Linked DNA regions of Homo sapiens. The protein of the gene in region 3 purifies or fractionates together with the protein of the main gene of each other region. This does not show direct contact. Each region holds a gene or a part of one and is shown on either strand. Other genes may lie near its edges.

Region 1 (4,001 bases), on a different chromosome or scaffold from region 3:
TAACTGCTGGCATGAGACAGATATCTGAACACCATCCCTGCCCTCTGGGGCACAGAATCTGGCAAACCTATCATGATGCTGTTCAGGACCACCCAAGCACAGGGCACCCCCGGCACAGGGCTCCCCAGCACTGGACACCCCCAGCACAGGGCTCCACAGGCACAGGGCTCCCCCAGCACTGGGCTTCCCCAGCACACAACTGTGAAGCATCTGACTCACCAGAGGAGCCTGGGAAGGCAACCCAGGAGATGTCAGTTAAGTCAGGCCACAAAAACGGAGTAAGAGTTTGCCAAGCTAGAAACACCCAGATTGGGCCATATGACCAAAACAGTCCACTGGGAAGAGGAGGGAAGCAGGAGGGTTAAGGGGAGCAGGCAGGAGCCAGCAACAGAAAATGAGGGTAGAATCCAGACTCAATCCCATGCCACAGGGAGGAAATCATTTCTAGACTTAAAAAGACTTAAAAAACAGACAGCGAGCAGGCTGAGTGAGGATGGCTACACTCACCAGGGAGGCGGTTCGGATGGTGGCAAAGTGGTCTCGGTTACGGCAGTAGGCCCGGCGGCGGGCGGAAGAGGTGGTGGAAGTGGGAGCTGGGGCTGCAGGCGGCTGGAGAGGGCTGGGGGTTATCTCTGGCTGGTAGGGGTCATCATATAGGTTGTCAGAGCCCTAGAGGGAGATAGAAGGAACACCCAAGGCTCAGAGGCCACTGGGTCCAAAGAGAGCTACCTGAGGACAGCCAATCAGACTCAGAGGAGTGCTGCACTTAGGGAAGGAGGGCGAAGACCCAGGCAGTTCTAGAGCAGGTGGCTCGGGTCCCCCAAGGGTGAGCTGTGTACCGGCAGCCGGTGGATAATGGAGCTGTGAGAGGTGACTGTGTGCTCCCCCTCCTGCATCATGGCCATCTCCCGGGCTTCAGGGCCTTCTTCCTCCTCCTCCTCTTCCTCCTCCTCCTCCTCCTCTTCCTCGTTGTCTGAGGCATCTGCTAGGCTGTTGACGGAGCTGCTCTGGCTGGAGGCGCTGATGGACATGCTGGGCACTGAGTGGCTACTCTCGAGGCTGGTCAGAGTCCCGGCCCGGTGCATGTAGGGCTCGGCCTCCTGCGAACAGGGCGTAGGCTGCTGGACAGGGAAGGGGAAGCCCTGGGGCATATGCATGGAGGTAGCATGGGAAGATGGTGGTGTGAGTAGGGCTGGGGAAGGGGCCAAGCAACTGCAGGGGGCAGGCACACATGGGGTATAAAGAGGGGTGTTAGGGCAAGCTGGGTCACCTCTTCCTCCTCTGGGGCCTCGGCACCAGGGCCGTTGGGTGCCTCTTGGAACAGGATCTTCTTCATCTTGCGGTACTGCAGGTTGTCCAGCTCCCGCACGGCATCCTTGGTCCTCTGGATCAGGTCCATGATGACTGTGGGTGGCCGCTCCCGGAGCACAAAGCGGTGCTGGGGGAAGAGGGCACTGAGGTCTGCTGCCAACTCCCCTTCCCCCCACAACCCACAGCCCTTGGCATTCCCTCAGGCCTGAGGCACTCTTCTGGGGCCCACGCCCACCACGGGTTGATGCTGGCCTTATCCCAAGCCCTTCTCTCACAATTTTCTGTACCACCCAGTACCTACTCCCCAGACAGACTCTTCTTCCTCTAAGCATGGCTGACAGGCAGGGACAGTCAGGAGAACTGGATTCTCGTCCAGCTCCTCTACTAAAGGGCTATGTGACCTTGGACATGTCATGAGGCCCCTCTGGGCTTCATACAGTATCCTACAATTATAAAACAAGTGGGTCCAACTACATAATCTGAAGTTTCCAACTACGGCTCCTCAGGCCCCCATGGGTCTGTGAAGGGAATGGGGCCCCTCCATTTTTGATAATTCAAAAAACACCTAAGGGAAATCATACATTTACCCATGATAAGGCTACACAGGCTTTTGGCTTGCATTACATCAGATCAGTGGGGCAACCCTGGTTATCACATGCTGACCAGAAGCTCTGGCTGGCAATTATATAAATCTTTGATTAATAAAAGAAGGGAAAACAGTTTATTACTTAATAAATTAAGGCAGTCTGGTAGACAAAATCTTGTAAAACACAGAGTCCACTAGGCATTGGGGATGGGGTGGGAATTCATCAACGAAGCTCTTGGTGGAGGAGGAACTGGGAACCACTAATTTCCCTGGGGGTTCTTGTGGCTGTAACAAGCTACAGTTCCAGGAGAATGCTAGGCCAGCAGGCCCTCACCTTCAGGAGAACCTCTGAGGTTGGTCTGTCTTGAGGGATTTTCTGAAGACAGGAGTCGACAAAATTCCGGAAGTACTCAGACCTGAAAGTCACAGGAGGGTGGGAGAGGGGTGGGGAAGGCATGAGTCAGGCATCCATACCCCATGGCCTAACGCCTGGGCCCAGATTCGGAATCTCAGTCCTCACCAGTGTCCTGACTGGAGCACGGGGGATTCGTTCTGTGCAATGTGGTATAAGGCACTCATCGCATTCATGTTAAAGAGCGGTGGTTTCCGTTCAGCTACAGAAAAAGGTGAAAGGGAAGAAGGTGAGAGGTGGCAGGGGGTAGAGGACAATGGAATGGAACTGAGACGACTTGGGTTCAAACCCCAATTCCTTGACTTCCTTGCCACATGACCTTGAGAAGTTCCCATCATCCTGTTGCGTCTCAGTTAATTCCTTCCTCTGTAAAATACAACACCCATCCTCTCCACTGCACACGGGTGGAATAGGGGTCAAAGAAAATAACATCCACAAAAGCAGTAACGAAGGCAGAAGGACAGCCATTCAGTTATCACCCCAACTAATATTTCTTAGGTGCCAAAGGGAGCAGATAACTTGATAATTGCTATGGGGAAGATAAAAACAAGAATTAGGCCCCACCCTCAAGGAACCTCCAGTCTAAAAGATTAAATAGGACTGAAAAAATAACATCAAAGTATTAACTGGTATAAGAGGGAAACAGGGAAGTGGCTGGGAAGTTGAGAGTATGCAGTGAGCCTTCAAGCTAGCATATCTTCAGGGAATTCAGAGAAGGGCTTTGTAAAAAGCCCTGAGATTAGAAAGGTAAGTGCAAGCTAAGAGTCGCTAAGAGTCCCTTGTAGCCCAGACAAATGTCATGTTGTTTTGGCCTAAACGGTGATTTTTAAAATTAACTGCCAAAAGTAATAATCAAATAATAATACAAGTTTCCAGTTTCTCCTTAAGAATTAAATCTGGTGAAATGGAGTCTACATTACTGCATAACAATGGTCTGGAGATAAGCATTAGCTGCCCTCTTTCTATGGAAACAGCAATCTCCAGTTTGCCACATCCTTCTCCACACTGCTTCCCTGATATTGACTTAGTATGAGTTGACATTTATAATCAGACTGATATATATTTTTTTCAATAGTAGAGTAATATTTCTCTGTATCCACATCTCTTCCAAAAACTAGAAATAAAATGGACAGATCTAGCTTTTTCTTATACTTGGGTCCGTTTCTTACATTTTTCATCAACTGTCTGGGCCTGGCATCTAATGGTAAATGGAGACTGTGAAGATGGAGGAGAAGGGCTCGTCCAAATCTCTGACCTCGGGCAGAGGACCCAATACGAACCAAGGCAAGGAAGTGGAAGAGTTCATGACACACTCAGAGGGTGGAGCCCATGAAGGAAAGGGCCAGCATTTACGAAGCAAAGCCTCTAGGTTGGTGGGAGGAAGGATGGGGATGGCTTCAGTCTTGAAGGCAACAGGGGGCCACTCATGGCTCCAAACAGGGAGTGAAATGACAGCACTGAGCTTAGGCAGACCTCTCTGGCATCAGTACTTAAGACAGACTGGAAGGGAGAAGAGACTGGAGAGATCACTGCAGGAGGCTGTTGATAAGAGAAACTAACAGCAACTCTTAGGCAACTGTTTTGTGCCTGGCATTGTGTTGGAAGCCTTATAAAGGTTACCTACCTCATTAAAGAATTGTTTCAATAGTGCTGGCTGACAGAGATGAGAACCTTGGCATGGCTTCAAGGCCT
Region 2 (4,001 bases), on a different chromosome or scaffold from region 3:
AATGGGAGCAGGAGTCAAAAGGAAAAACAAATTAAAAGGGGCTAATGAGAAAGGAGGAGAGATGAGACAGAGAGTGTGAAGGGCTATGCCGCTGGCATCTCATAAATTCTTATTGAGAATGGCACAGGTATTAAAAAAGTTTCTGGGTAGTCTACGAGAAATGTCAATTATTATCTCTACTACAACTACTTACATATATCTAATGGGAAAAGAGTGGGGCTTAGGTGTCAGAGTGGATGGGAGACAAAGGAGAAGCTACACTAATAAATACAACAAGTGGAAGGTACCTGTCCCATTCCTAAAAGGATTTGTGGGCAATGCTGGCACTTGGTGGCCAGGAGAATCTTCTGACCCCACTCTCCCTCCTCTTCAGTCCTGAAGACCCCAAGAACCCAGTTAGGATCCCCTGGCCAGAGGTCTCTGTGACTGCCTCTGGACTCAGCACGTGCAGCAGCTTGGGAGGATTTGAGCCAGTCTCAAAAACTTTTAGCCCCAGAATGAGACCAGTGACCCCAAGCAGGAGGGCTGGGATCTGGAGGGAAGAGAGGGGGTCCAAGGGGACCCTGTGGCTGAGGCCATGGAGAACCAGTGCCAGGGCCCAAGAGACCCATTTTTCCAGTTATCAGAGGTGACTGACATCTTCTGCCACTGCCTTGAGTTCAGAAATTTAAAAAAGCTTGCAGCAAGAAAATGCCAGTGTGCAACTGGGTGACTAAAGACCAAAGAAAAACAGTTAAAAGGGACAGCTTACTTGCTCTCTGTCTCAGGTTTAACTTCTCACCTGAAATCTCTCATAGCCCTAATTAAACACAAACAAAAGTCTCTTCCATAGATAGGCTACTTCTCAGCTTCAGCTGCCTCCTGTGGTGGCTCTGGGGGCTCTGGAGGTGGCATCTCTTCGGGAGTGCTGCTGTCCTCCGGCATCTCATTTGAGTTCAGGTGTTCTGTGGGGGCCTGAGAAGGAAAAGATATGAGATTCAACACAAAGCTGTTCCTCAAAATCCAAATGCAGATAAACCTTAGACACTGAACTCTTCCTCTCAGCCCCCTGATCACACTGATGCTACAGATATGCAGCCACCAACACCAAACTCAGAACCAACACCAAGCTATCGTCTTCTCGGCAGAACACAACTGAAGTTTATTTGAGTTTGATCCTTAACTGTTGGTTGGGGACAGATTTTTCTATTATTATTAATAGTCATAATAATAGGAATCACAAATAATTACACAGGTCCTCCCCACTTCAGAACAAATGTCATAACATACTTATGTAACAAGGCCTGACCCAATGGTCCTCAATCGTGTTTCTGCCCGAACACACAGCTCATTAGAATAGTGATTCTGAACCAAAGAAGGCCAAGTGTCCAAATTTTCAGCTGGTCATATGTGGTTTGAAAATGTCCCCAAGTGATTCTAAAATACCACCCTTCTCCACTTTGAACCAAGAATAACTAACCTAGATTGTTACAATTTGAGTCCAGACTCATTTAAAAAATAATATTAAAAATGACAACAATAATATATAAACACGGGTTGCTGTACTTTAAAAGGAAATTCAAAATTTAGGAAAGGCAAAGTAGAGAACTATTATCTACCTTATAAAAAGAATTCACTTAAAAGTATGATTCTGGCCGGGCGCGGTGGCTCACGCCTGTAATCCCAGCACTTTGGGAGGCCGAGGCGGGTGGATCATGAGGTCAGGAGATCGAGACCATCCTGGCTAACAAGGTGAAACCCCGTCTCTACTAAAAATACAAAACATTAGCCGGGCGCGGTGGCGGGCGCCTGTAGTCCCAGCTACTCGGGAGGCTGAGGCAGGAGAATGGCGTGAACCCGGGAAGCGGAGCTTGCAGTGAGCCGAGATTGCGCCACTGCAGTCCGCAGTCCGGCCTGGGCGACAGAGCGAGACTCCGTCTCAGAAAAAAAAAAAAAAAAAAAAAGTATGATTCTATTTTAAAACAAAGTTCAAACTACTAAAAATCTATTAGAACTAATGAACAAGGGCCGAGTACGGTGGCTCGTGCCTATAATTCCAGCACTTTGGGAGGCCGAGGAGGGTAGATCACTTGAGGTCAGGAGTTTGAGACCAGCCTGGCCAACATGGCAAAACCCGGTCTCTACTAAAAACACAAAAATTAGCCGGTGTGGTGGTGGGCACCTGTAATCCCAGCTACTTGGGAGGCTGAGGCAGAAGAATCACTTGAACCCAGGAGGTGGAGGTTGCAGTGAGCCAAGATGGCGCTGCCGCACTCCAGCCTGGGCAACAGAGCGAAACTCCATCTCATAAAATAAAAACAAAAACAAACAAAAAAGAACTAATGAACAAGCTTGGCAAGGTTTTAGGGTATAAGATCCATATATAAAAATCAATTGTCTTTCAATACACTCCAAGTGAAAAATCCAAAAATGAAATTAGTAAAACAATTTCACTTACAATAACATGAAAAATAATCAAATATTTATGAATAAATGTAACAAAAGTGTAAAACTTATACTCTGAAAACTACAAAATGTTGTTGAAAGAAATCAAATCATACCTAAATATGTGAAAATACAGTCCATGTAAATGGCTCAGAATATTTAATCTTGTTAGGATGGCAATATTTCCCCAAATTGATCTATAGATTCAATGAAATCCCCATCAAAATTCCAGCTGGCTTCTTTTCATAAATGACAAGTTGATCCTAAGATTCATACGGAAATTTAAGGCACCCAGAAGAGCCAAAACAATCATGAAAAAGAAGTATAAAGTTGGAGGACTCACATTTCCTGATTTCAAAACTTACTACAATGCTAAAGTAATCAAGACAGCGTGGTACTAGCATAAGAACAGACATATTGAGCAATACAATAGAACTGAAAGTCCAGAAATGAACTCTCACATTTATAGATTTTCAACAAGGGTGCCAAGACAAGTCTATGGGAGAAGAATAGTCCTTTCAACAAATGGTGCAGAGACAACTGGATAGCTACAGGCAAAAGAAAGAATGTGGACCCTCTACCTCACACCATATATAAAAATTAACTCAAAATGGATCAAAAACCTAAATGTAAGAGCCAAAACTGTACAGCTCTTACAAGAAAACAAGGGCATAAATCTTCATGACTTTGGATTAGGCAACAGTTTCTCAGATATGACACCAAAAAGTACAAACAACAAAAGAAAAAAATAGACAAACTGGACTACATCAAAATTTAAAAATTTTGTGCTCCAAAGGACACTATCAAGAAAATTAAAAGATAACCCATGGAATAGGAGAAAATATTTGCAAATTGTATATCTGGTAAGAGACTTGCATACAGATTACATAAAGAACTCTTACAACTCAACAATAAAAAAGACAAACAATCCAATTAAAAAATAGACAAAAGCTCTGAACAGACACTTCTCCAATGAGCACATAAAAATGGCCAATAAGCACATGAAAAGATATTCGACATCATTAGTCATCAGGGAAATGCAAATCAAAACCACAATGAGATACCACTTCACATTCACTAAGATGGCTAGACTCAAAATGTCAGATAATAAGTGTTGCAGAGGATGTAGAGAAACTGGAACCCTCAGGCACTGCTAGTGGGGGTATAAAATGGTGCAGCCACTTTGGAAAACAGTTCAGCAGTACCTTAAAGGTTAAACATAGAGCTACCATGTGACCTAGCTATTTTACTCCCAGGTATATAGCCAAGAGAAATGAAAATATATGGCCATGCAAAAATTGGTACACAAATGTTCATAGCAGCATCACTCATAATAATCAAATGGTGGAAACAATCCAAATGTCCATCAACTGATGAATGGATAAATGAAATGTGGTATATCCATATAATGGAATATCATTTGGCCATATAAAGGAACGAAGTACTGCTACATAGTACAACATGGACAAACCTCGAAAACATGCTAAGTAAAAGAAGCCAGTCACAAAAGACCACATATTGTATGATTTCATTTACATGAAATACCCAGAAGAGAGAAATCTGTACTAAAAGGAAGT
Region 3 (4,489 bases):
CTCTGCAGTCAGACTGCAAGGGATAGAATCCTAGCTTCACCTTTTCCGGGCTGGGTGACCTTGTACAAGTTACTCAGTTTGTCTCTCTTTCCTCCTGTAAAATACGGTGATAATAGAACCTACCATCCTAAGATTGTCATCAGGATGAAGTGAGTTCATACATGTAAAAGCTTTTAGCTTTTAGTGCCTAGTACAGCGTAACAACAAATATTAGAGATCTAGGTCAGTGCAGCTAAACAGACCAAGACCCAGATTAGCAAAATGACATGTCAAGTCAAGGAGCCATAAAGAAATAGATATCACAGCTGGAAACTGGGTCCCCACATCCTATTCTCTTCTCTATGATGTTTCTTTGTGGGTATTTCACACAGGTGGCACTCTGGAAGATGCACTTTCCTGACACCTGATAAGCAGAGTCAATAAACACACCCACCTTCTCTGCTTCAACATACCCTGCAGAGTCGTCCTTCCTCCTAGTGAGACCTCAGGCCCACCATTTCCCACTGGCCTCCCATCTGACTCAACATGCACCTGGGGGGTTCCATCTACTGCTGGCTCCCACAGCAATACTGCAGTGAAGAAAGCAAGCATCACATCCTCATGCAGTTGTTATGGGAATTAAATGAGATAATGCCTGGAAAAGTGCCTAGCAGAGTATCTGATATATAGTATGCAGCTAATAAATGTTATCTATTAAAAAATAGAAGGAAAAGGAGGAGGAAAACCCTGTGGTGCCTACTCTCTCAAAGCTGACACACATTCCAATGGCAAATGCCAGACACAGGGCAGATTGAGATGGGTGGTAGAACAGAGGGATGCACGTCTGTGAAGAATTACAGTGAAGGGCAAAACCCACTGAAGACAGGAGGGAGCTGCAGTTCCCACTCTCCCCCTTCCTTCTTAAAAGAAGATGATGATACTCAGTTGGTGCTTTGCTGGCAAACTCAAGCTCCAGAGCTTTGGATTTTTAATATTATAATATTTCAGAACAGAACAAAGACTGCTTCTGACCTCCCAATTTGCCCTCATACACTTGACCAGCAAAACCTTAGCGTAGCTGCATTCATCAATGGCTCTATTCAGGCAATTATGGGTCAGACAAAAGATTCAATTAATACTGATCCCGCAAGTCTCCTTAGTATATTCACAACATGCTTTGGATTCAGAGTTCTATGGCACCTTCATATGACCTTCTCCGGATCCCAATATTGACAATTCCTAGTTCAGAAACGACAAACATAATATTAGAACAAGAGAAGAAGGGAAGCTGGTGAGAAAGAAAGAACAGACTAGACTGGGTGCAGAAATTATATCATCCATTTGCTGTCTGTCCCCGAGTGCATCCTGGGGCCTGGCCCATGGCGGGCTGGTTGGAAATGCATACTGAACGAGTCAATCTCCTCAAGAAGGTCACCACCCAGGTAAGAAGTGGAGCCTGCACATTACACCAAGTTCAGCTAGAGAATCAAAGCCACCTCTTCGGCTCCAGATATGCAGGGAAGACAAAGCACGAGGGCATATGCCTTCAGCTAAGAGATAGGTGCGTGCTTCCTGTTTACCTGGGCAGGTATTTGCAAATAGTCTAAGAAGGGGGGCAACTAGGAGTGACTTACACAGTTCCAAGTGAATGGTTACGCAAATCGCTTGAGTAAATACAGGGAAAGAAACAGGAAAGGCTTCTGAACTGTTTGTACTCATCTGCTCCAGTATTTTCAGAGGGTAGGGTGAAAGACAAAAAACCCGAACGAAGGCTCCGGGCCAACCACAAAGCTACTCTCCGGCAGGAACGTAAGGAACACCTACCGCCCCTCCCCCCACTTCACGCCTTGGCACCAAACCAGGGCCCCTGGGTCATTTTGGCAGGTGGAGGTAGCTCTTTGCTGTCCTCTGCCCCTGCTGCGGGCCACCCGAGTGAAGCTTTCGGCTCGGTCTCCCCAGACAAAACCGGGGGGAGACATCAAGAATGCAAAAGGTGCTCCTTTCTCCAAATGAACGAGAAGGGACAGAGCGGGGTTGGGGGTGCAGGACAAGCCCTGCAATGCGAAAGGCGCCCAGCCAGGCTCGCCGCGGCCCCTGCCGGCAAGACTGGCTCGCTTGCTAGCCAAGGTGCCTCAGGAGGTCGGGCAGCCACCCAGAAAGGCGCGAAAAAAAAAAGAGGAGTTCCTGACCCCGGGGTGACCCTTCCCCACCACTGCCACTGATCCAAACGCAGAGTCCGCAAGTGACTCCACACCTGCGCTGCAAGCCTCACGCCGTCCCCACCCAGGGCGCAGCGCTGCACGAGAGCAAGGGCCCTGGGTTCGCTCTTCCCTGCAACTGTCGCGGGGCGCCTAGCACAGCTGCAGGGCAAAGGGGAGGGGAGGAATGACAAAGAAGGCGGAGCAGACGGCCCGGGAAGCATTTACAAGCGCCAGGAAAGCGCCTCCTCTCGAGGAAGGGAAGGAACGGCTTCCCGGCCAAGGAAACGCCCCGGGGATGCCCCTACGCGAGGTGCCGCCTTTCTTCGGCTCATCGATTCTCCCGCCTCCAGGTGGTCCTCCCCCTGACCATAGCCCACCCCACTCCCCGAAAGCTGATCCTAAATACCTTCCCCGAGGCTTTCAAATCAACCCAGCCACCGCTTCAACAGCCCGCAGTTCACGCAACAGGCGGAGCCTTAGGGCTCCAGCGACGGCGGGCTCTGGGGACCAGAGGATGCGGGCGCCGCGGGCCAGACGCCCAGAAGGACGGAAAGTGCTCTGCGGCCGTAGACCCTCGGGGTCGTGCACCCGCGACCTGGACCACAGGAGACTGGGGCAGCAAAAGGTGGGGGAAGGCGCGGTAAAGTTGCAGGGTCGCCCGGAGAAGTCTCCGGAGCGCGCAGGGAGGTGGGGACGCCAGCCAGGTACCTGCAGGAGTCCGGACGCATCCAGCTAGCTCCGCTCTGCGACGCCGCCTGCCCGCGCTGCAGGGATCAGGCCTCGCGGCGCGGCCCCGCGCCTGCCGCCGCGGCGGCGAGGAGAGCGGGGTGGCCCGCGTCGGCCGGTCTGTCCGTCGGTCCCGCCCCGCTAGAGCGAGGCTCCCGGGAGCTGCGGGCGGGGCGGGGCCGGACGGGACGGGGCGGGGCCCGCCGCTCGGCCGCCGCCCCATTGGTCGCAGCTCCGCCAGCCCCTCGCTTCGGGCCCGCAGCCGGGCGCCCCGGGCCGAGGGCGCGGGCGGCTGAGGACTGCGGGGCTCCGACCGCCAGACAGGCGGACAGACCCATAGACCTAGATGCTGCCCTGCCGGCCGCGCGCCCCCGCCCAGGCCCAAGTGCAGAGTCACCCCGGAGCGGCAGGCGCTGTCCGGGTGGGACCAGGAGCGCGCCCCGCGCCTCCCACCTGCGCGCCCTCCTGGGCCGGAAGCGCCGTGGCCCTGCGGGAAAAAGATGACCTCCCCCGCGGCCCCGGCGGCTGGGGCAACCGCCTTTCTAAAGTCGCGGCCCAAGCGACACTTTGCTAATTTGCCTGGATTTCCTCAGGAAATCGCGAGGCCCAAACTTGTTTTAAAACAAAGTGCGAAGGAGAGTACATATAGCTCCAGTTCCTGCCAATGTTTGCCATCGGTCCCGCTGCCTGAAGACTCAGGCACAGTGCAGAACAAGATGCTTTGTCTTATTCCTCCACTCACCGAGTCAGAAGAGGTGCTTGGACATTTGCACCAAGCAGATGCGCCTCATATGTAGAAGAGGAACCAGTCGGGTCCCCTTTCGGAAGGACGAATGGAAGAGGAAGTCAGGGGACGATGCCTTCAGCCGACGTTGAGGAACAAACCAGGACCTCGGCGAGGACAGCGTGTGGTCCAGAAGGCATCGCTGGCCTCGCTGCACTGAGCGAGAGCGCTCAGTTAACAGCCAGGAGGAGAAATGGGACGCTTCGGGACCCACCCCCGCGCTCCCCCTCCCGCCCCCAAACTGCAGATTTTTAAGTTGTGCAGACGTGGAACAATTCCTCGGAGCCAGCTGCTCCAAGCTAAGGCGCCCAGTGTTCCCTGGGTTCCTACCCGCAGCATACGCCCTGCCAGCTGCCCCCAAGCCAGCACCCGCTGACCACTCACCTCAGGCAAGCACCTAGGAAGACGATGCAGATTCAAGCTCCAGACCTTGAGCCAAGCGCTGGGGAGGGAATGGGGGCAAAGAGATGGTGGAAAACACTTTCCTGAACTTACTGAATACCCTATGTTATGTGTGGGTTTTCTAATTGTTCTTTGCTTAATGAAAAACCCACGTTGGAAATCAGAAAAAGGCAGTAATCCTCACCGTATCTTGTGGGCTTCAAAGAGGAGGTTTTCCCCTTAAAGGGAGTTTTGGTCCAGAGGAGAGGCTAACAGCAGGCAGGAAGGGCAGAGGAAAAGATAAAGCCTAGGGTGGTCTTCCCCCTGAGGCCTGGAGCCCACCAAGCTCCAACAGTTTCATTTGGCTTCTGGGAAGCAAAGTACAGATGCATGTGTCTGCAGAGCACTGTTCTGAGCC
Region 4 (4,001 bases), on a different chromosome or scaffold from region 3:
TTCCTCCCACCTGCACCCAGTTTGTTCCTCCCCCTCCTTCCTTCTTAGGTCATGCCCTTAGAGGTGCCACCCTGTCTAAGCCAGACTTTGTAGTGCCAAGATCATTTCCTTTGTGACACTAAGCACTTATGATTTTACAAGAATTTGTGTAATCCTTTGAGTCATGTCTCTCAGAATACGGTGGGCTGCCCAAGGGCAGGGACCACTAAGGGTTTTCCCTGCCCACTTTTTTTTTTTTTTTTTTTTTGAGACAGGGTCTCACTCTGTTGCACAGGCTGGAGTGCAGGGGTGCGATCTCAGCTCACTGCAACCTGTCTCCTGGGTTCAAGTGATTCTCCTGCCTCAGGCTCCCGAGTAGCTGGGACTAGAGGCGCCCGCCATCGTGCCTGACTAATTTTTGAATTTTTAGTAGAAATGGGGTTTCACCATGTTGGCCAGGATGGTCTCGAACTCCTGACCTCAAGTGATCCTCTCACCTCGGCCTCCCAAGGTGCTGGGATTACAGGCGTGAGCCACCGTGCCCAGCCATTTTCCTGCCTCTTGTCCAGCCAGCAGCACACAGTTCGAGATGGGGCAAATGCTGGGTAAACACGTTTCTTTCTTCTTTGGGTAGCCTGACCAGCTAGAAACCTTCCTGTTCCATCCCTTTATAAATAAGGAACTGAAACCGCCCAGAAATGGAGAGATTCCTTCTTTATCCACCACACCAACCTGTCTGGTACCCAGTGAAGCTCCACCTGCCAAAACACTGCAGGGACCCCTGGGTGAGGCACAGTCCCAGGAGATATAAACACATGCTGGAACCTTCTAAGACAGAATTTCCAGACTGTGGCCAGGTGCCGAGGATCACGCCTGTAATCCCAGCACTTTGGGAGGCTGAGGCGAGTGGATCACTTGAGGCCAGGAGTTTGAGACCAGCCTGGCCGACATGGTGAAACCCCATCTCTAGTGCAACTACAAAAATTAGCCAGGCGTGGTGGCACGTGACTGTAGTCCCAGCTTCGAGGGAGGCTGAGGTGGGAGAATCACTTGAATCCGGGAGGCAGAGGTTGCAGTGAGCCAAGATCGCACCGCTGCGCTCCAGCCTGGGCGACAGAGCAAGACTCCGTCTCCGAAAAAAAAAAAAAGTTTCAAGGAGAAGCACAGGAGAGCACAGGGTCCCTAACAAAAGTCCTGCCAACGCAGAGAAGCTCTGAGGGGCTGCAGACCAGCGTGGTACACTGACAGGCCAGGGCTGGGTTGTGGCCAGCAGTCTCCCAGATAAGCAGGGCCCAGGGGCCCCCAAAGAAGCCACAGGGTAACCTTACTTCCTCAGCTATTCTAAGAACAGCTGGCAAAAGCCTTGACTTCCTCTCCAGAAAAGAGCCCATCCCTGCCATGGGTGGTTCAAGGGGACAGCAGAGTCACTGGGTCAAGTGACACAGCAACACTCCAGCCGGCTAACAGTGGGACCACAGCTCCCACCCCACCCCAACCCTGCCCCAGGCTTCTCTCCCCCAAGCCTGGGGCAGAGCTGGGGTCCCAGTGCCTATGACAGCTCACTGTCACCTCAAGCCCCCGCTCCCTATAAGCTGCTGCTAAACACCCTCCCTGACCACTTGTCACTCTTGCAAACCCCACACTGTGGATAATGGACTGTATGGTTCCGGCCTGCTGCTCTGTACATTTGAGCATCCCTGATCTCTACCCATCAGGTGTCAGGAACAGCACCCTGTGAAATCCTAACAATCAAAAATGTCTCAGTAGGCTGGGCACAGTGGTTCATGCCTGTAATCCCAGCTCTTTGGGAGGCCGAGGCAGGCGGATCACCTGAGGTCAGGAGTTTGAGACAAGGCTGGCCAACATGGCAAAACCCCATCTCTACTAAAAATATAAAAAGTAGCCAGGCGTGGTGGCACAACCCTGTAATCCCAGCTACTCGGGAGGCTGAGGCAGGAGAATTGCTTGAACCCAGGAGGCGGAGGTTGCAGTGAGCTGAGATTGTGCCACTGCACTCCAGCCTGGGTGACAACAGCAAGACTCTGTCTCAAAACAAAAAAAAAAAGGCCGGGCGCAGTGGCTCACGCCTGTAATCCCAGCACTTTGGAAGGCCTAGGCGGGCGGATCACGAGGTCAGGAGATCGAGACCACCCTGGCTAACACAGTGAAACCCCCTCTCTAGTAAAAATACAAAAAATTAGCCGGGCATGGTGGCAGGCGCCTGTAGTCCCAGCTACTCGGGAGGCTGAGGCAGGAGAATGGCGTGAACCCGGGAGGCGGAGCTTGCAGTGAGCCACCGTCACGCCACTGCAGCACTCCAGCCTGGGTGACAGAGCGAGACTCCGTCTCAAAAAAAAAAAAAAAGAAAAAAAAGAAGTCTTACTGGGGTTCTGCGAACTAGGCATCTCTTCTTTATTACCTCATTCCACTGATGAGGAAGCAGAGAACTTTCTAGATCATCTGCCACACTCTGGGGACAGAGTGTGGGTTTCAACTTTCCTCTTCTTCTTCCTCCTCCTCCTCCTACCCTGAGGCTTCCTGACTTTCAGCTGGTAGTCGGGTCACTAACCCTTGATGGGCCTCAGTTTCCCCATATGGACAGTGGACAGAATGGTAGGATACATTTTCCTACACATCCTGGGTGCCGCCACAAGGCCCTGAAACCCCGACCCAGGGCTGGTTCATGGCCTTCCGAGGCCAGATGGCGATTTGTAGCCATTTATTGAGCCCCTATCCTGGCAGCGGTCAGCATGAGAAGCAGACATGTTAGTGAATACTGCAGGATCAGAAGTTCAGAAAACAGAATTACAGGAAGAGCCAGGGCAGGCAGGAGAGATCTAGGAGTTGGAGTCCTAGGGCAAAAGGTTCAGGGGTCACAGGTGAAGGGTTGACAGGTCCAGAGGACATAGGGTGGGGTTAGGGGGTGGGGGTCACAGGACCCAAGGGTTAGAGGTTGGAAATGATAGGATGAGAGAGGTCTGCTTCTATGGGAGAAGGTGCTGGTCTTACAGTCAAAGGGCAGGGATCAGAGGTCACAGAAGTCATAGGGAATGATCTCAGGTGGCATGGTTACAGGTCAGGGGTCAGCCTCACCTGGTCTCCCTGGCGGGCAATGATGGTGCCAGCTTTGGCGTGGTGCAGCAAGACTCTGCTGTTCAGGAGGGAGGGGTCCTGGGGAGGTAGGGGGGTTGAGATGGGCGCAGCCAGGCCTCCCTTGCGCCCTGTGCCCAGCTCCCCTCGGCTGCCCACCTCAATCCGCATCAGCTTGGCCAGCTCCTGCTTTGCTGCCTCGAAGATGCTGCTGGTCTGGCGGCCCTGGTAGGGCCCGAAAGGGCAGCCACCAGTGGCCGACTCATCCTCACAGTAGCTGTATTCACAGGCGCCTGCCGGCTGCTCACGAGGCTCCTGAGTGGGGGTCTGAGTGGGGCAGGCTTGTGACCTCCTGATGCTCCCTCCCAGCCACCTTCCCCTGCGGGCTCCACCACCGGGCAGGGTCCCAAGCCTTACCCGAGCGGGGGCTGCCAGGGACCCCCCGGAGGCCTCTTCCTGCAGGGACACGGAGATCCGGCCACGCTCATAGGCCATGTCGAAGTCGGAGCGGGGGCCACCCTGCAAGCCTGCAGGCAGGCAGGGGGGCAACAAAAACCATAAAGATGAGAGTAAGATTTTTAAAAAATGAGCCAGGTGTAGTGGTGCAGGCCTGTAGTTCCAGCTATTTGGGAGGCTGGGGCTGGAGGATCACTTGAGCATAGGAGTTCGAGGCTGCAGTGAGCTATGACAGCACCACTGCACTCTAGCCTGGGAGACAGGTCTCAAAAGAAAAGAAAAAGATGAGAGTAACCACAGTTGCAGTCTGAGACCAATGGATACCAATGTGCCATGGGCCACTGCTGTAGCAGACATGACTAATCAACGCCTGCACTCTCCCTCTGAATCCCTCTTAACAGGTGGGAGAAGCACTATCTCAATGAATATCTACAAAACAGTGCCTGGGGAAGTACTGGCAGTGTTCCCATTTCGCA
Region 5 (4,001 bases), on a different chromosome or scaffold from region 3:
AGTCAGAGTCGCGCTGTCACCCAGGCTGGAGTGTAGTGGCGCAATCTCGGCTCACTGCAAGCTCCACCTCTCGGGTTCACGTCATTCTCCTGCCTCAGCCTCCCGAGTAGCTGGGACTACAGGCGCCTGCCACCACGCCCGGCTAATTTTTTGTATTTTTAGTAGAGACGGCGTTTCACTGTGTTAGCCAGGATGGTCTCAATCTCCTGACCTCGTGATCCGCCCACCTCGGCCTCCCAAAGTGCTGGGATTACAGGCATGAGCCACCGTGCCCGGCCAGATGTGCCCACCCCTTTTATTTTTGCCACTATTTAAGACTTTCTTTGTTACAAACATAGCTAATTAGTCTAACTGAAATTCTATACATATTTTAGCCGTTACTATTTGTTAAAGAATAAAGAAATGTGAGTGAATAAGTAAACAAAGATCCTCACTCCTCTTTAGCTTGCCTTCTACTAGGATTTAAAACACAGATCTCCAGGATTTGAGCTATATCTCAATTTTAGTTATATATTTAAATGGAATATTAAGAAACATCTTACAAATAATTTTTTTTTTTAGGTAGCTGATCGTCTGTTTTCATCTTTTGGACAAGACATATTAGATGCTCTCTATTGGACAGCAACAGAGCCTAAAGAAAGAAAAAGAGCCCACATTGGGGTGATTCCTCACTTTTTCATGGCTGTTCTCTATGTCTGTATCCTTATAGACCTACTGGAAATTTCCGACAGTTAATGCATAGTCTACCTTATTTTATTTGGTTAGCCATTTTATAGATTTAAAGATATATAGATAATGTATGTATCCTGAAGATTAATGTGAAATATTTGTGTTCTGTTGAGAAATTGATTGTCATAATAACTAACTAATTTAAGAGCCTCATGTAGGCATTACTCTTTGAGCTGCTGGAAAACAGTTCTGTTTGCAGTGTAACTGATTATAAGGAAGACTTTTATAATAAAAAGGCAGTGTATCTTTATACATACCTGATATAGATCTATATAATTTTTCGTACTTATGTTAGAATTTTTCTTGAAGTTATCTTTAAATCCAGGAATTCTTTTTTATGGGCTTAAAATGCATGGAATTTATCTAAAAGTGTAATGTGAAATTGGTTGGGAGGAGTTTTGGTGGTTTTATGTGTTTGTGTATTCTTCCCTGGCTTTAAGCTTTTCTATTGGAGAGTAAGTGCTTTACTGTATAAGCAGTGTACATGTTTGTGTGTACCCCTACATATTTATACACACATTCCTGCTCTTAAGTTCCATGTGAAGTCAGGACTCATTCACAAGAATGAGTCACTTTTTTTTTTTTCTATCTCTGTAACAGTGACACTTGAAAGAAATTGGGTTAATGCTTGGAAAGTTAAAGAACCAAGTTGGAAGATACCTGTGAGGGTAAAATCTTGTTCCAGTTTTAATGGAGTAAAGCAGTTACCACTCTTAGATATAAATTAACTATTCTGTATGTAATACAAATATAATTCTGCAGTTTATGGATATCTTCAAAATGACATATGAAGAAGAATCTTAATTATCAGATATTTCCTACTGCCTTACATTCCACATTTCCTGAAGACTCAGGGAAGAAAATCACTTCCAGAATTATATTTTGTGCTTTCTTTTTTAGAATGCAAATTATTTTAATTCAGAATGTGTATTTCTTAGTCTCTTCTTTCAGTATTTACCATAATTTATTCCATTTACTTAACAAACTTTTTTGAGGGCCTATTTCCTGAGCACTGTGCCAAGTGCCAGAGATACAGAAAGAACAAAACAACCCTGTTGCAAAGGATTCATGGTCTAAATAAATGAATGCATAGAGGTACATTTCCACTTTTGTTCGTTTCATGTGGATTGCACATATCCTGTCAAACTTATATCAACTATAGCTAATAGGGAAATTATGAAGATAATACAATACTTATTAAGACAATTTAGAAAAGAAAGTCATCTTTATTATTCACTTTCAAAATTTTATAGTATTATCAGTAATAATATGAAAGCAAATTTAAGTTTTTTCCTTGACCTTCTATTAGTTTTGCATGCAATTCTTATAATGGTTCAAGCAACAACTCTCAATGTAGCTTTTAACTCACACAACAAGTCTTTGCTTACTATCATGATGTCTAATAATGTAAGTATGAGATTTATCTTACATTTTTGAAGTTATACAGGCATTTCAGCTGCAATACTCTGGGTGGGATAAAATTCTTTGTTCTATATGTTGTTCTCCCGGAAGTTTTATAAGTAGCAAGTCCAGTTTTTAAACTGTTATAATCATAAAGATGGTATTTCTGTTTACTATTTCAGTTTGTTGAAATTAAAGGAAGTGTTTTCAAGAAGTTTGAAAAGAACAATCTCTTTCAAATGTCAAATAGCGGTATGTACAATTAGATTCTACTTGAAGTTCTGTGCAGTATTATTTTGCAGTTCATTCTGAAATCCTAATGGCACATTTTCTCTGGGCCACTCTTCAGCTTAAACTGTACCTTCTCTTATGCTATCAACATCTTTACTAGGTTTTCTTATTTTTGGTTCCTGTAATCACAAGATGTTTGAGATAAAAAAATTAGAAACATTTGTGTAGCACCATACGCTACTTTGAGAAGCTTCTTAATAGTCTAGAAATTTCTCTGAAGTGGGTGGTATTTTTCCATTTTATAGATGTGAAAACTGAAACACAGAAAATAATTTGACTTCTCCACAGTCACATAGCTTCTAGGAGAACTATGTCTATAAATCTCAGATTGTCTCTAAGTCCTTAGCTTTTTTAGTTATTATTTAGTTATTATTTACTGCCTTCGTTCTAATCCTAAAAAGTGTGAAGGCACAAAATTTTTGTGCCTGGAGTCATTGTCTTACATAGTTTTTGAAAGCCAGAGCCACATTGCGTGGTGGATCATGGAGCCCCCAAGAACAGTCCCAGGGGCTCTGCCAGGGAGTATGCTCAGAGTCAAAAGTGTTTTCACAAGAATATGAAGACATTATTCATCTCTTCTGCCATGGTGACATTTGCACAAGTCATGAAGAAATGGTGGTGTTTTAGCATGAATCCAGACAGATGTACAATAGAGAGGACCCCTAAAGGAACCTGGCTTGATGATGTCCTTGAGGAAGGAGGGGTGTGTTATGGGGAGGCCTGCAGTCCTGTCGTAGATAAGAGCACACATGGCTCATCCAAAGCAGCGCTTGTCAGACTTTTTGGTCCTGAGAACCCTTTTACACACTTTAAAAAGTATGATGATCAGCCAGGCGCAGTGGCTAACGCCTGTAATCCCAGCACGTTGGGAGGCCGAGGCTGGTGGATCACCTGAGGTCAGGAGTTCAAGACCAGCCCGGCCAACATGGTAAAACCCCGTCTCTACTAAAAATACCAAAATTAGCTGGGTGTGGTGGCGGGTACCTGTAATCCTAGCTACTGGGGAGACTGAGGCAGGAGAATTGCTTGAACCTGGGAGGCGGAGGTTGCAGTGAGCCAAGATTGTACTAGAGCACTCCAGCCTGGGTGACTAGAGTGAAACGCTGTCTCAAAAAAAAAAAAAAATTACGATGATTCCAAAGGACTTTTATTTATATGGATTATGTCTCTCCCTATTCACCATATTCGAAATGAAAACTGAGAAATTTTAATAAAAATATTACATGCTTACAAAAATAACATTTCAATAAAAAAGATATTTTATAAAACAAAATTTAGTGAGAAGAGTTTCTCAACAAGTAATGCTGGAACAGTTGGATAAAGGTTAAAAAAAAAAGAACTTTGGCCCCTTCCCTGCCCAAGAAAATTAATTCATAGTGGTTCATAACCCTAAACATAAATGCTAAAGTTATAAAACTTCTAGAACAAAATATAGGAGAAAACATTCACAACCTTGGTCTAGGCAAACATTTTTGGAGACCACACAAAAAGTACTAAATGTAAAACAAAAGAGAGAAACTGGACTTCTTCAAAATTAAAATATGTGATCATAAAACTTAAAAAGTGAAAAGGCCAGCCAC
Region 6 (4,001 bases), on a different chromosome or scaffold from region 3:
TCTCCAGGGTTCAGGATATCAAGTATGAGCCCCAGCTCCTTGCAGATGATGATGCTAGACTACTACAACTGGAAACCCAGGGAAATCAAAGTATGTGGCAAGCTCTTGGAATGCTTCAGTGAGGAGTCCCACAAGTCCAGAATTCCTTTTCTCTCAGAGTTGTCAAAAGCTGCTGGCAAAGCCTTAGTTATTCCTGTTATTGGATATATGTTAGATGCAGAGCCCATTTATTAGCTTGCTGGAGTTTGGGGAATTTTTTTTTTCTTTTTTGAGATGGAGTTTCACTCTTGTTGCCCAGGCTGGAGTGCAATGGTGCAGTCTCAGCTCACTGCAACCTCCACCCCCTTGTTCAAGCAATTCTTCTACCTCAGCCTCCTGAGTAGCTGGGATTACAGGCATGCGCCACCACGCCTGGCTAATTTTGTGTTTTTACTAGAGACGGGGTTTCTCCATGTTGGTCAGGCTGGTCTCAAACTCCTGACCTCAGGTGATCCACCCACCTCAGCCTCCCAAAGTGTTGGGATTACAGGCATGAGCCACCACGCCCAGCCTGGGGAATATTTTTAGGGTTATGCCTAACACCAGTCTTTTCCTCAACAGGTTGCTACAACTATCTGTATAGGATGAAAGCTCTGGATGCCATTCGTACCTCTGGTAAGGGCTACCTGACAGGGTCCATTCTAGGATCCTGAAAGCCCACCTAGGGAACAGAGTAATGAACCCACTTTGTATGTTAGGATTTGTCCTTTCTGCACATCCCTGGCTAGTAGGAAATTCTAGAGTTTTGAAAGTACTAGATTAGAGATTTTGCTGAAGGAAATGATATAAGCAGGTTATTCTCCAAAGAGTCTGGGTGTTTTGTTTTTTAAAGTTCTTCTCTTGAGACCTTTAGTTTCATGAAGTAGATGATAGTAATTTGCTTGTTTTTCCACAAAGGACAGGTGGCACCTGCTTTTTCACTAAGCCCAAGATAGATTGTTCTTGAATTTTTTCCATTCTGTCAACACTTGTCATATATGCTTTATCTCTATGAAAACAGTTTATATCTTAAACCTAGGATGGATGAGTAAGCAGGATGGTAAAATGTGTGATGACACTATCATGTGTCATAGATGTAGCTTACAACTGTGGTGTTACCACCAAATGACCACTCAGGCACAGCTTTATACCTTTGGTCTCAATCAGAATCTCCCTCTAACTCAACTTGCTCATTTCATTAGACCTATTTCTTTTTATTTTTGAGACGGAGTCTTGCTCTGTTGCCCAGGCTGGAGTGCAGTAGCACGATCTTGGCTCACCACAACCTCCACCTCCTGGGTTCAAGCGGTTCTCCTGCCTCAGCCTCCCGAGTAGCTGGGATTACAGGTACCTACCACCATGCCTGGTTAATTTTTGTATTTTTAGTAGGGACAGGTTTTCACCATGTTGGCCAGGCTGGTCTCAAACTCCTGACCTCAGGTGATCTGCCTGCCCCGGCCTCCCAAATTGCTGTAATTACAGGCGTGAGCCACTGCGCCCAGCTTCATTAGACCTACTTCTAAGTTTGGGGAATTAACTAGAAAGACTAAAGAATGGGGCAGGCGCAGTGGCTCATGCCTGTAATCCCAACGCTTTGGGAGGGCGAGGCAGACAGATCACAGGAGGCCAGGAGTTCAAGACCAACCTAGCCAACAAGGTGAAACCCTTTTGTATTTTTGTCTCTACTAAAAATACAAAAATAAGCCTGGCATGGTGGTGCACATCTGTAATCCCAGCTAATCAGGAGGCTGAGACTAGAGAATTGCTCAAACCTAGGAGGTGGAGGTTGCAGTGAGCCAAGATCACTGCCACTGCACTCCAGCCCGGGTGACAGAGCGAGACTCCATCTCAAAAAAAAAGACTAAAGAATGAGAAGAGATATCATTGTGCTGTTTTCTCCACAGAGATCCCATTTCATTCTGAAGGCCGGCATCCCCGTTCCTTAATGGGCAAGAATTTCCGCTCCTACCTGCTGGATCTGCGAAACACTAGTACGCCTTTCAAGGGTGTACGCAAAGCACTCATTGATACCCTTTTGGATGGCTATGAAACAGCCCGCTATGGGACAGGGGTAAGCCAGTTTTTTCTTCGGGGCACTAAAGAGATCCCTCAGACTGAGAGATCCTCACTCTTCCTTTCTCTTTCCTAAGGTCTTTGGCCAGAATGAGTACCTACGCTATCAGGAGGCCCTGAGTGAGCTGGCCACTGCGTGAGTTTGGAGGGGAACGTGTCAGAGGGAGCTGGTACAGTAGTGTTGGACTGTTGCCACAGTGCAGTGACCTTCATAAAGCATATAAACAAAATCCATGATACCATAAGAGTTGTCAGGTTCTAGACTATTAGATCAGTCTCTTACATTAGAAAGCAGATGCGGCCGGGCACAGTGGTTCACGCCTATAATCCCAGCACTTTGGGAGGCCGAGGCGGGAGGATCATCTGAGGTTGGGAATCCGAGACCAGCCTGACCAACATGGAGAAACCCCGTTCTCTACTAAAAATACAAAATTAGCCGGGCGTGGTGGCGCATGCCTGTAATCCTAGCTTCTGGGGAGGCTGAGGCAGGAGAATCTCTTGAACCCGGGAGGCGGAGGTTGCGGTGAGCCAAGATCGTGCCATTATACTCCAGCCTGGGCAACAAAAGTGAAACTCTGTCTCAAAAAAAAAAAAGAAGAAAAGAAAGCAGATGCAACTATACAAGCTAGTAAAAGAAGTTTTTACTAGCATTTTTCTTGTGTGCATTTTTCTTGTCTTTTGTTTAGCCCAATAAAATGTCAAAATTGGTGTAGCCTAGCAAAGGGAATAGTTTTTCAGCACACACAGGGATTCCTTCTCTTCAGAGTCTCAGCGTCCCTTTTGTGTCTTGGCCCAATAAAAGTAAGAATTAAATAACATTGGGCCGGGCGCGGTGGCTCACGCCTGTAATCCCAGCACTTTGGGAGGCCGAGGCAGGCGAATCATGAGGTCAAGAGATCAAGACCATCCTAGCCAACAAGGTGAAACCCTGTCTCTACTAAAAATACAAAAATTAGCTGGGCATGGTGGTGCGTGCCTGTAATCTCAGCTACTCGGGTGGCTGAGGCAGGAGAATCGCTTGACCCCAGGAGGCAGAGGTTGCAGTGAGCTGAGATCACGCCACTGCACTCCAGCCTGGTGACAGAGCAAGACTCCATCTCAAAAAAAAAAAAAAAAAAAAAAAAAAAAAAAGAATTAAATAACATCTATTTTTGGCCGGGCGCGGTGGCTCACGCCTATAATCCCAGCACTTTGGGAGGCCGAGGAGGGTGGATCACAAGGTCAGGAGTTCAAGACCAGCCTGGCCAACATGGTGAAACCTCGTCTTTACTGAAAATACAAAAATTAGCTGGGCATGCTGGCGGGCTCCTGTAATACCAGCTACTCGGGAGGCTGAGGCAGAAATCACTTGAACCCGGGAGGTGGAGGTTGCAATGAGCCGATATCATGCCATTGCACTTCAGCTGGGGTGACAAGAGCATGACTGTCTCAAAAAAAAAATAAAAATTAAAAATTAAAAAAATCTATTTTTACTACCACTTAAAGTATTAGTAACCATGTCTGAAACAAAGGCCATCGCTATAGAGTCAGCTGTTGAGCATTTGTGTCACAGGAGAGGATTCATGGCTTTTGTTTGGGAATGTTTTTAATACACACTAAACATAGTCTCGTATTTTCATGCAAATGTTAAAATCAAAGTTCTTGGCGAGAAAGGAAAGCCAATCTAGAGTAAAAACTTAGGCCGGGCGCAGTGGCTCACACCTGTAATCCCAACACTGGGAGGCCGAGGCAGGTGGATCATCTAAGGTCAGGAGTTCAAGACCAGCTTAACCAACATGGTGAAACCCCATCTCTACAAAAATACAAAAATTAGCCGGGCATGATGATGTGCGCACCTGTAATGCCAGCCACTCAGGAAGGTGAGGCAGGAGAATCGCTTGAACCTGGGAGGTGGAGGTTGCAGTGAGCCA
Region 7 (4,001 bases), on a different chromosome or scaffold from region 3:
ATTTCTTTTCCAGAATAGGGCACTTTTGTCTGCACTAAAAAGTTGATGAGGTAGGGCTGGCCGCAGGGTTCACACCTGTAATCCCAGCACTTTGAGAGACTGAGGTGAGTGGAAGCCTTGAGCTCAGGCATGCGATAAGTAATAATCACATCATGGACTGTATGCCTTTCTTATAGCAGTCCTGCACCCATATAAAAGCTTCATTTTCAATATGAGATGAAAAGGTATTTTGCAAAAAGTGCAATGTTTTCTTACCTGCTGGCATTAAGTGCAGGTGGATCACAAGGCCAGGAGTTTAAGACCAGCCTGGCTAACATGGTGAAACCCCATCTCTACTAAAAATACAAAAATTAGCTGGGCATGATGGTGGGCGCCTGTAATCCCAGCTACTTGGGAGGCTGAGGCAGGACAATCGCTTGAACCTGGGAGGTGGAGGTTGCAGTGAGCCAAGATCGTGCCACTGCACTCCGGCTTGGGCGACAAGAGCAAAACTCCATCTCAAAAAAAAAAAAAAACAAAACTGGAGAACTGCAAGAGATCACTTTTTACTGCTATACATAATTTACTCAAGAGACAAACTGCTCACAAAGAGATGATTAGCATCATGTGGCATTTTAAGCAGATACTCCCAATACTTGAGGCTCAGCAAAATAACAGGAGCTAACTACAAAATTATTACAGTAGTACAGTACTACTGTTAATTTTATGCAGGTGTGATTAATACTGCACCTGTATGTTTACATTTTTCTCAAATGCAAATGGTACCATGTAGTCTCAAGTGTTTGTGAGCATATGTTTTGATAGATTTTCACTTTTTATAATAGATTTGTGTATATTTTATGATAGTAAATGATAAAATAGACTAGAATCTAGATATATTTTATGCATTCATATAATTTTCTTAATTTTTTGGTATGTCCATGCTCCATGGTTTGTGAGATGGTGATGATGATGATTATTATTTGAGACAGAGTTTCGCTCTTGTTGCCCAGGCTGGAGTGCAATGGCACAATCACAGCTCACTGCAACCTCTGCCTTCTGGGTTCAAACAATTCTCCCGCCTCAGCCTCCCAAGTAGCTGGGATTACAGGTGTGCGCCACCACGCCTGACTAGTTTTGTATTTTTAGTAGAGACGGAGTTTTGCCGTGTTGCCCAGGCTGGTCTCAAACTTCTGAGCCCAAGTATTCTTCCTGCCTTGGCCTCCTAAAGTGCTGAGATTACAGATGTGAGCCACTTTTTCAAATTGTTGCAAATCTAAAAAATTTTTCCAATGTATTTATCTTTTAAAATTGACATATAAAAATCCATGGTTCAAACTGATGCCACTCAAACCTGTGTTGTTCAAAGGCCAACTGTATCTCTTTTTTAAAACTATTTATTTATTTATTTGTATATAGAGACAGGGTCTTGCTTTGTCACCCAGGCTGGATTGCAGTAGGGTGATCATAGCTCACCTCAGCCTCGAACTCCTGGGCTCAAGGGATCCACCTACCTCAGCCTTCTGAGTAGCTGGGATTTTGGGTGCATGCCACCACACCTGGCTAAATTTTTATTTTTAGTAGAGACAGGGCCTCGCTATGTCGCTCAGGCTCGTCTTGAACTCCTAGCTTCAAGAGATCCTCCTATCTCAGCCTCCCAAAGTTTTGAATTACAGGCATGAGCCACCACACCCAGCCTCAACTATATTTTCTTAATTTCATTTTTTTATTGTTCATTGCTAGTATATAGAAAAATGATAATTTTTGTATATTGATCTTATATCCTGTAACTTTGTCCAACTTGTTTATTAGTTCTAACAGTATTTGTGTGTGTGTGTGTGTGTGTATTCATTAGGATTTTCCATTTACAAGATCATGTCATCTGTGGATGTAGTTTTACTCTTCTTTCCAATTTGGATGGCTTTTATTTCTTTTTCTTGCTTAAATGCCCTGGCTTGACCCTCTAGTACAATGTTGAACAGAGTGGCAAGAGTGAACAGACATACTTGTCTTGTTCCTGATCTTGGTGGGAAAACACCTAGTTGTTCACCTTTAAGTATGATGTTAACTGTGGATTTCTGTAGATGGACTTTATCAGGTCGAGGAAGTTCCCTTCTATTCCTAGTTAAGTGTTTTTATTATGAAAGAGTGTTGGGGCTGGGCGCAGTGGCTCACACCTGTAATCCCAGCACTTTGGGAGGCCGAGGCGGGCAGATCACAAGGTCACGAGACCATCCTGGCCAACATGGTGAAACCCCGTCTCTACTAAAAATACAAAAATTAGCTAGGCATGGTGGTGCGCGTCTGTAGTCACAGCTACTCAGGAAGCTGAGGCCAGAGAATCGCTTGAACCTGGGAGGCAGGGGTTGCAGTGAGCCGAGATCGTGGCATTGCACTCCAGCCTGGGTGACAGAGCAAGAATCCGTCTCAAAAAAAAAAGAGTGTTGGATTTTGTTAAATGCTTTTTCTGTACCTATTGAAATGATCGTGTGATTTTTGTCCTTTATTCTATTAACATGGTATGTTACATTGATTGACTTGTGTGTGTTAAACAATCCTGCAATACTGGGATAAATCCCACTTGGTGAAAATATATAATACTTTTTACATTGCTGTATTTGTTTTACTAGTATTTTATTGAATATTTTAAAATCTATATCCATAAGGGATATTGGTTGATAATTTAGACTTCTTATGATATTTTTGTCTGGTTTTGGTTACAGAGTTAATACTGGTCTCAAAGAATGAAGCCAGCTGGGCCTGGACTTTTCTTCATTGGAAGTTTTTTTTTTTTTTTTTTTTTTTTTTTCAGACAAGGTCTCCCTCTGTCACCCAGACTAGAGTGCAGTGGTGCTCACTGTAGCCTCGCCCTTCCTGGCTCCATCAATCCTCCTACCTCAGCCTCCTGAGCAGCTGGAACTGCAGGTGTGCACCACCATGCTCGGCTAATTTTTGTGGGGTCTTTTTGTTTGTTTTTTATTGTACTAATGAAGTTTCGCCATGTTGGCCAGGCTGGTCTTGAACTCCTGGGCTCAAGTGATCCTCCCACCTCAGCCTCCCAAAGTAATGGGATTACAGGCATGAGTCACCATGTCCAGCTAGAATTTTTTTGATTGTTAATTAAATCACCTTATTTGTTGTAGGTCTACTTGGGTTTTCCTTTTTTTTTTCTTTTTCTTTTTTGGAAATAAGGTCTCTGTCACCGAAGCTGCAATGCAGTGGCACTACCATAGCTTACTGTAACCTCAGATTCCTAGGCTCAAGTGATTCTCCTGCTTCAGTCTCCAAAGTAGCTGGGACCACAGGCATGTGCCACCATGCCCAAGTATTTTTTTTTTCTTTTTTTAGAGATAATGTATTGCTGTGTTGCCCAGGCTGGTCTCAAACTCCTGGTCTCAAGCAATCCTCCTGCCTCAGCACCCCCAAAGCTCTGGGATTACAGGTGTGACCCACCATGCCTGGCCTCCATTTTTCTTGGGTCAGTTTCAGTAATTTGTGTCTTTCTAGGCATTTGCTGATTTTATCTAGGTTATCTAATTTGTTGGCACACAATTGTTCATAGTATTTGGATTGGTAGGGATATCCCTCTTTCTTTTTTTTTTTTTTTTTTTTTTTTGAGAGACAGGGTCTTGCTCTGCTGTGCGATTATGACTCACTGTAGCTTCAACCTACTGGGTTCAAGCAATCCTCCTGCCTCAGCCTCTCAAGTAGCTGGGACTACAGGTTGGTGCCATCATACCAAGCTAATTTTTGTATATATATATTTTTTGGAAGAGAGGGGGTTTCACTGTATTGTCCAGGCTGTCTAGTTCCTTAAGGTAGATTAGGTTACTGATTTGGAGTCTTTTTTAAAAAAATAAGCATTTAGAGCTATAAATTTCCTTCTAAGCACTGTTTTAGCTGCATCCTATACATTTTAGTACGTCGTGTTTTCATTTTCACTCATCTCAAAGCATTTTCTAGCTTTCCTAGTGATTTATTCTGTGACTTGCTTGCTTATTAGGAGCTTGTAGTTTAATTTC

What was found.
Region 1: the proteins of KCNS3 (region 3) and TAOK2 purify together in Homo sapiens (affinity purification with mass spectrometry; 2 studies listed by BioGRID and IntAct, with this or other methods). This does not show direct contact.
Region 2: the proteins of KCNS3 (region 3) and ZDHHC9 purify together in Homo sapiens (affinity purification with mass spectrometry; 2 studies listed by BioGRID and IntAct, with this or other methods). This does not show direct contact.
Region 4: the proteins of KCNS3 (region 3) and PNPLA6 purify together in Homo sapiens (affinity purification with mass spectrometry; 2 studies listed by BioGRID and IntAct, with this or other methods). This does not show direct contact.
Region 5: the proteins of KCNS3 (region 3) and TAPT1 purify together in Homo sapiens (affinity purification with mass spectrometry; 2 studies listed by BioGRID and IntAct, with this or other methods). This does not show direct contact.
Region 6: the proteins of KCNS3 (region 3) and LTAP1 purify together in Homo sapiens (affinity purification with mass spectrometry; 2 studies listed by BioGRID and IntAct, with this or other methods). This does not show direct contact.
Region 7: the proteins of KCNS3 (region 3) and DNAJC18 purify together in Homo sapiens (affinity purification with mass spectrometry; 2 studies listed by BioGRID and IntAct, with this or other methods). This does not show direct contact.

What each region holds. Positions count from the first base shown.
Region 1 is NC_000016.10:29,980,171-29,984,171, reverse strand, and holds part of TAOK2 (serine/threonine-protein kinase TAO2), read right to left. Parts: intron 2,512-4,001; coding exon 2,418-2,511; intron 2,314-2,417; coding exon 2,232-2,313; intron 1,439-2,231; coding exon 1,271-1,438; intron 1,122-1,270; coding exon of another isoform or gene 1,101-1,121; coding exon 840-1,100; intron 670-839; coding exon 508-669; intron 1-507. UniProt on the Homo sapiens protein: Serine/threonine-protein kinase involved in different processes such as membrane blebbing and apoptotic bodies formation DNA damage response and MAPK14/p38 MAPK stress-activated MAPK cascade.
Region 2 is NC_000023.11:129,805,533-129,809,533, forward strand, and holds part of ZDHHC9 (palmitoyltransferase ZDHHC9), read right to left. Parts: intron 955-4,001; coding exon 838-954; 3' UTR 1-837. UniProt on the Homo sapiens protein: Palmitoyltransferase that catalyzes the addition of palmitate onto various protein substrates, such as ADRB2, GSDMD, HRAS, NRAS and CGAS. The ZDHHC9-GOLGA7 complex is a palmitoyltransferase specific for HRAS and NRAS.
Region 3 is NC_000002.12:17,877,206-17,881,694, reverse strand, and holds the start of KCNS3 (delayed-rectifier potassium channel regulatory subunit KCNS3), read right to left. Parts: upstream 3,029-4,489; 5' UTR 2,889-3,028; intron 1-2,888. UniProt on the Homo sapiens protein: Potassium channel regulatory subunit that modulates the delayed rectifier potassium channel activity of KCNB1 by namely slowing down the deactivation and inactivation time constants.
Region 4 is NC_000019.10:7,542,156-7,546,156, reverse strand, and holds part of PNPLA6 (patatin-like phospholipase domain-containing protein 6), read right to left. Parts: intron 3,597-4,001; coding exon 3,487-3,596; intron 3,397-3,486; coding exon 3,229-3,396; intron 3,151-3,228; coding exon 3,073-3,150; intron 1-3,072. UniProt on the Homo sapiens protein: Phospholipase B that deacylates intracellular phosphatidylcholine (PtdCho), generating glycerophosphocholine (GroPtdCho). This deacylation occurs at both sn-2 and sn-1 positions of PtdCho.
Region 5 is NC_000004.12:16,184,916-16,188,916, reverse strand, and holds part of TAPT1 (transmembrane anterior posterior transformation protein 1 homolog), read left to right. Parts: intron 1-561; coding exon 562-697; intron 698-2,038; coding exon 2,039-2,136; intron 2,137-2,312; coding exon 2,313-2,382; intron 2,383-4,001. UniProt on the Homo sapiens protein: Plays a role in primary cilia formation. May act as a downstream effector of HOXC8 possibly by transducing or transmitting extracellular information required for axial skeletal patterning during development. May be involved in cartilage and bone development.
Region 6 is NC_000001.11:154,210,546-154,214,546, reverse strand, and holds part of LTAP1 (protein C1orf43), read left to right. Parts: coding exon 1-90; intron 91-600; coding exon 601-654; intron 655-1,922; coding exon 1,923-2,089; intron 2,090-2,168; coding exon 2,169-2,227; coding exon of another isoform or gene 2,228-2,231; exon of another isoform or gene 2,232-3,086; intron 3,087-4,001. UniProt on the Homo sapiens protein: General regulator of phagocytosis. Required to uptake Gram negative bacterium by macrophages.
Region 7 is NC_000005.10:139,432,945-139,436,945, forward strand, and holds part of DNAJC18 (dnaJ homolog subfamily C member 18), read right to left. Parts: intron 1-4,001.